Homo sapiens: one gene and its partner. The protein of the gene in region 1 purifies or fractionates together with the protein of each later gene. This does not show direct contact. Each region holds a gene or a part of one and is shown in the gene's direction. Other genes may lie near its edges.

What was found. The genes of interacting proteins can lie anywhere in the genome.
Region 2: the proteins of SENP7 (region 1) and AHDC1 purify together in Homo sapiens (affinity purification with mass spectrometry; one large-scale study listed by BioGRID and IntAct). This does not show direct contact.

What each region holds. Positions count from the first base shown.
Region 1 is NC_000003.12:101,503,213-101,506,712, reverse strand, and holds part of SENP7 (sentrin-specific protease 7), read left to right. Parts: intron 1-3,500. UniProt on the Homo sapiens protein: Protease that acts as a positive regulator of the cGAS-STING pathway by catalyzing desumoylation of CGAS. Desumoylation of CGAS promotes DNA-binding activity of CGAS, subsequent oligomerization and activation.
Region 2 is NC_000001.11:27,548,645-27,552,144, reverse strand, and holds part of AHDC1 (transcription factor Gibbin), read left to right. Parts: 5' UTR 1-29; coding exon 30-3,500. UniProt on the Homo sapiens protein: Transcription factor required for the proper patterning of the epidermis, which plays a key role in early epithelial morphogenesis. Directly binds promoter and enhancer regions and acts by maintaining local enhancer-promoter chromatin architecture.

The sequences.
Region 1 (3,500 bases):
ATTTATGCCTGTTTCTGCACTTCTGTTGGTCTTTATGCCTCTTATATGATAATTATCAGATTCCATCATATATTCTAGCTTGCTGAGTTGTCTAATGTCTACTTCTATACTATTAACACTGTGACAGGGACTGTCATTAATTTTATTTCCCCATAGCATCCAGTATGCCTAGAGTGTACTGGTTTAGAGTACCATCTCTGGAATATGACCGGTGATGGATCACTATGGTAACGTTGGGCAAGTTATTTGGATTCCTCAAATCTTAATTTCTTAATCTATAAGATGGAGATTATACATTATTGATTTCATGATATAAGGATTAAGGAAAATAATTTGTGTAAAGCACTTAGCATAATTCCAGGCAATGATAATTACTATTATGTCAAATAAATAGGCTGGGTGCTGTGGCCCATGCCTGTAATCCCAGCACTTTGGGAGGCCAAGGTGGGCAGATCACTTGAGCTCAGGAGTTCGAGACCAGCCTGGCCAATATGGTGAAACTCTCTCTCTACTAAACATAAAAAATTAGCCAGGCATGGTGCTTCCTGCCTGTAGTCCCAGGTACTGGGGAGGCTGAAGCGGGAGAATCGCTTGAACCTGGGAGGTGGAGGTTGCAGTGAGCCGAGATCGTGCCACTGCACTCCAGCGTGGGTGACAGAGCAAGACTCCGTCTCAAAAAAAAAAAAAAAAAATTATGGAATAAATAAGTGAATGAGTGGGAAAAGTTATGCTTTTAGTTTTTTGACTCATATATTTAGAATGAGAGTAATTGGAGAGATTTTCCTATATGCTAATGCTAATATACTACAGTCTTTTAAAGGGAGATACTTGACTATAAAATGTTATAGTTACCATTTCTTTTGCACTAACTATGTGTTAGTCATAATGCTAAATGCCTTAATATGGACTATCATGCTTTAATCTGAACGATTAAAAAGGCAGATATTCTCCGCCATTTTACAGATGAGAAACTGAGACTCAGAGAAGTCACAACTAGTAAGCCGAGATACAAATTTAGGTTGTCTAGCTTTAAAATATGTACTCTTGAGCATGGTAACTATACCATACAGTCTCAAGTCGAGGCACATCATATGCTTATTTAAACACTCCAGAGCTAACCTGGTATAAGATGGAGCAAGTCAGCTATAAAAAAATTGTAAATTTTTTTATTAGACAAAGTTGGCCAAGAAGAAAAAAACATAAATATTTGGGAATTCACAGTAGCATTAATGAAAGGAAATAGGGGAACATACTACAAAACAGGATGGAAGCACTTTTAACCCAGTGAGACATTTTTGGGATATAAATTTGTAAATTAAAATTTAAGAAACTGACATTCCTTTTAAAATGACATGTACTTTTTTATTTGTATAAATTTAAGGGTTACAAGTACAGCTTTGTTATATGGGTATATTGTGTGGTGGTGAAATCTGGGCTTTTAGTGTAATCATCACCTGAATAGTGTACATTGTACCCATTAAGTAATTTCTTATCCCTCACTGCACTGCTCCTAGCCTTCCAAGTCTTCAATGACTGTTATTCCACACTCTATGTCCATGTGTATACACATTATTTAGCCCCTACTTATAGTGAGAATATGTGGTATTTGACTTTCTGAGTTCTTTTTTTTTCTTTTTTCTTTTTCTTTTTGAAATGGTTTCGCTCTGTCGTCCAGACTGGAGTGCAGTGGTGCAAAAACGGCCCACTGCAGCCTCGACCTCCTGGGCTCAAGCGATTCTCCACATGCCTCACTGCAGCCTTGACCTCCTGGGCTCAAGCGATTTTCCCACCTCAGCCTCCCAAGCAGCTGAGACCACAGGTGGTGTCACTGTACCTAGCTAATTCAAATAAATATTTTTAGAGACAGGGTCTCACCATGTGGTGCAGGCTGGTCCCAAACTCCTGGGCTCAAGCAGTCATCCTGCCTTGGCCTCCCAAAGTGTTGGGATTATAGGTGTGAGCTTCTAATCTGAGTTGTTTCACTGAAGATGAAGGTCTCCAGTTCTGTGTTACTGTAAAAGACGTGAGTTCATTCCTTTTTCATTCCGGAATAGTATTCCATTGTGTATATGTAGATATGTGTTTTGTTAAATTTAAAATTGACTAGAAAATGAATTTCTACAGGATACTTTCTTATCACTTATTTAAAAAATTCTTTATTTTTGGTAGTCAACTTGAGTACTAGTTTATTTAAATTATTTGAAGTTATCAAAAGCTTAAGTGTAGAGGTGAAAATAATTTTTTTTTTTTTTTGAGATGGAATTTTGCCCTCGTTGCCTAGGATGGAGTGCAATGGTGTGATCTTGGCTCACTGCAACCTCTGCCTCCTGGGTTTGAGCGATTTTCCTGTCTCAGCCTCCTGAGTAGCTGGGATTATAGGCACCTGCCACTACACCCAGCTAATTTTTTTTTTTTTGTATTTTTAATAGAGACGGGTTTCCCCATGTTGACCAGGCTGGTCTCGAACTCCTGACCTCAAGTGATCCAACCACCTCGGCCTCCCATTAGTGCTGGGATTACAGGCATCAGCCACCGCGCCTGGCCCAAAAATAATTTTTTAGATCAGGAAAACATTACATGGTTTCTCAGCAAGTGCATGTAGTGAAACTAATGCTGTGTATTATGAACTTAGAAGAAATCATTTCAGCAATATAGATTTCTGGGTAGTCTATATTTCATTAGTTATTATTATTATTTCTGATTTTAAGTACCATACAGTACACATATCTTTAGTGTATAGTTCAGTGACTTTTTTTTTTTTTAATTTGAGACAGTGTCTTGCTCTGTTGCCCAGGCTGGAGTGCAGTGGTGCCATCATGGCTCACTGCAGCCTCAACTGCCTGGTTCAAGTGATCTTCCCACCTCAGCCTACTGAGTAGCTGGGAGTGCAGGTGCACACCACCACACTCAGCTAATTTTTGTACTTTTTTATGCAGACGGGGTTTCACCCTTTTGCCCAGGCTGTTCTCAAACTCCTGAGCTCAAGCGATCTACCCACCTCAGCCTCCCAAACTGCTGGGATTACAGGCATGTGCCACCATGCCTGGCCCCCATCACTGTTTTAACTAGTGTTACCATAGGTTTATTTTAACTCTTCTTGAATTTCTGAGAAATAGAATCATATACTCTTCTGCATCTGGTTTCCTTTGAGCATGCCTGAGAAATGTATCCATATTGTGCGTAGCAGTAATTCATTATCTTTTATTGCTATACAGTTTTCCATTATATGAATATGTTTATCCATACTTGATGGATATTTGGGTTGTTTCCAGTTTTTGGATATTAAGAACAAAAATACCTGAATATTCTTATTTCTGTTGGTTATTTATCTAAAAGTGTAATTGTTGGACATTGCATAGGCAGGTGTCTAACTTCAGTAGATGCTGGTGAAGCAGATGTACTCATTTACACTCTTAGCAAGAGTATATGAGTTCCAGTCTCTCACCAATATTTGGTGTTGTCAATCTTTTTACTTTTACCCATTCTAAAGGCTGTTTAAT
Region 2 (3,500 bases), on another chromosome or scaffold:
CCCGGCGGCCTGCGGAGGACAAGGTCAGGATGCGTGTGAAGCCCCAGGGCCTGGTGGTGACTTCCAGTGCCGTGTGCAGCTCTCCTGACTACCTCCGGGAACCCAAGTACTACCCCGGCGGCCCCCCCACCCCCCGGCCCCTGCTTCCCACCCGGCCCCCTGCCAGCCCACCTGACAAGGCCTTCTCCACCCACGCCTTCTCCGAGAACCCACGCCCACCCCCACGCCGGGACCCCAGCACCCGGCGCCCACCAGTCCTTGCCAAGGGGGACGACCCGCTGCCCCCACGGGCAGCCCGTCCTGTCTCACAGGCCCGCTGCCCCACACCGGTCGGAGACGGCAGCAGCTCCCGACGCTGCTGGGACAACGGGCGGGTGAACCTGCGACCAGTGGTGCAGCTGATTGACATCATGAAGGACCTGACACGCCTCTCCCAGGACCTGCAGCACAGTGGTGTACACCTGGACTGTGGTGGGCTCCGACTGAGCCGCCCGCCTGCACCGCCACCCGGCGACCTACAGTACAGCTTCTTCTCCTCACCCAGTTTGGCCAACAGCATCCGTAGCCCTGAGGAGCGGGCCACCCCACACGCCAAGTCGGAGCGGCCCAGCCATCCCCTCTACGAGCCTGAGCCTGAGCCTAGGGACAGTCCCCAGCCTGGCCAAGGCCATAGTCCCGGAGCCACGGCTGCGGCCACGGGTCTGCCCCCAGAGCCTGAGCCAGACAGCACTGATTACTCAGAACTTGCTGACGCCGACATCCTTAGTGAGCTGGCCTCCCTCACTTGCCCAGAGGCCCAGCTGCTAGAGGCCCAGGCCCTCGAGCCACCATCGCCCGAGCCGGAGCCTCAGCTCCTGGACCCCCAGCCCCGCTTCCTGGACCCGCAGGCACTAGAGCCGCTCGGGGAAGCTCTGGAGCTGCCACCCCTGCAACCTCTTGCTGATCCTCTGGGGCTGCCGGGCCTGGCTCTCCAGGCCCTGGACACCCTGCCTGACTCCTTGGAGTCGCAGCTGCTTGACCCCCAGGCACTCGACCCCCTGCCCAAGCTGCTTGACGTCCCAGGTCGCCGTCTGGAGCCCCAGCAGCCCCTGGGGCACTGCCCACTGGCCGAGCCCTTGCGCCTGGACTTGTGCTCACCGCACGGCCCCCCCGGGCCTGAGGGTCACCCCAAGTACGCCTTGCGGCGCACTGATAGGCCAAAGATCCTGTGTCGCCGGCGGAAAGCCGGACGGGGACGCAAGGCAGACGCCGGACCCGAGGGCCGCCTACTGCCCCTGCCTATGCCCACGGGGCTGGTGGCTGCCCTGGCCGAACCCCCACCACCACCGCCTCCTCCACCCCCTGCCCTGCCAGGCCCAGGCCCGGTCTCAGTCCCAGAGTTGAAGCCGGAATCTTCCCAGACCCCAGTGGTCTCTACCCGCAAAGGCAAGTGCCGGGGCGTGCGGCGCATGGTGGTGAAGATGGCCAAGATCCCCGTATCGCTGGGGCGGCGGAACAAGACCACATACAAAGTGTCTTCCTTGAGCAGCAGCCTGAGCGTGGAGGGCAAGGAGCTGGGCCTGCGCGTGTCGGCTGAGCCCACCCCGCTGCTGAAGATGAAGAACAATGGGCGGAACGTGGTAGTGGTCTTCCCACCCGGTGAGATGCCCATTATTCTCAAACGTAAGCGCGGCCGCCCTCCTAAGAACCTGCTGCTGGGTCCCGGCAAGCCCAAGGAGCCAGCTGTGGTGGCGGCCGAGGCAGCCACTGTGGCAGCGGCCACCATGGCCATGCCAGAGGTAAAAAAACGACGGCGGCGGAAGCAGAAGCTGGCATCTCCCCAGCCATCCTATGCAGCAGACGCCAACGACAGCAAGGCCGAGTACTCAGACGTCCTGGCCAAGCTGGCCTTCCTGAACCGCCAGAGCCAGTGCGCTGGACGGTGCTCACCGCCCCGCTGCTGGACACCCAGTGAGCCGGAGTCGGTGCACCAGGCCCCCGACACCCAGAGCATCTCCCACTTCCTGCATCGTGTGCAGGGCTTCCGGCGGCGTGGGGGCAAAGCAGGCGGTTTTGGTGGCCGGGGTGGGGGCCATGCGGCCAAGTCAGCCCGATGCTCCTTCAGTGACTTCTTTGAGGGCATCGGCAAGAAAAAGAAGGTGGTGGCCGTGGCAGCCGCTGGGGTCGGGGGCCCGGGCCTTACTGAGTTGGGGCACCCACGCAAACGGGGCCGGGGGGAGGTAGACGCTGTGACTGGGAAGCCAAAGCGCAAGAGACGGTCCCGGAAGAATGGGACTCTGTTCCCAGAGCAGGTGCCCAGTGGCCCAGGCTTTGGGGAGGCAGGTGCTGAGTGGGCCGGGGATAAGGGTGGTGGCTGGGCCCCTCACCATGGGCACCCAGGCGGACAAGCTGGCCGAAACTGTGGGTTTCAGGGGACCGAGGCCCGGGCCTTTGCCTCCACTGGGCTGGAGAGTGGAGCCTCAGGCCGTGGCAGCTACTACAGCACGGGTGCACCCTCAGGCCAGACCGAGCTCAGCCAGGAGCGCCAAAACCTCTTCACCGGCTACTTTCGCTCGCTGCTCGATTCGGATGACTCCTCCGATCTCTTGGACTTTGCCCTCTCAGCCTCTCGCCCAGAGTCCCGGAAGGCATCGGGCACCTATGCAGGGCCACCCACCAGTGCCCTGCCTGCCCAGCGGGGCCTGGCCACCTTCCCTAGCCGGGGAGCCAAGGCCAGCCCAGTGGCAGTGGGTAGCAGCGGGGCTGGGGCGGACCCCTCCTTTCAGCCTGTCCTGTCCGCGCGCCAGACCTTCCCACCAGGACGAGCAGCAAGCTATGGGCTAACTCCAGCCGCTTCAGACTGCCGGGCAGCCGAGACCTTCCCCAAGCTGGTGCCCCCGCCCTCAGCCATGGCCCGCTCACCTACCACCCACCCGCCTGCCAACACCTACCTGCCCCAGTACGGCGGCTATGGGGCCGGACAAAGCGTATTCGCCCCAACTAAGCCCTTTACAGGCCAGGACTGCGCTAACAGCAAGGACTGCAGCTTCGCCTATGGCAGTGGCAACAGCCTCCCTGCCTCACCCAGCAGCGCCCACAGCGCCGGCTATGCCCCACCGCCTACCGGGGGCCCCTGCCTGCCACCAAGCAAGGCCTCCTTCTTCAGCAGCTCTGAGGGGGCCCCCTTCTCTGGTTCAGCCCCCACGCCCCTGCGCTGTGACAGCCGGGCCAGCACAGTCTCGCCCGGTGGCTACATGGTACCCAAGGGCACCACAGCCTCTGCCACCTCTGCAGCCTCTGCCGCCTCCTCCTCCTCCTCCTCCTTCCAGCCCTCGCCCGAGAACTGTCGGCAGTTTGCGGGGGCTTCTCAGTGGCCTTTCCGGCAGGGCTATGGAGGCCTGGACTGGGCCTCAGAGGCCTTTAGTCAGCTCTACAATCCCAGTTTTGACTGCCACGTCAGCGAGCCCAACGTGATCCTGGACATCTCCAACTACACACCGCAGAAGGTGAAGCAGCAGACG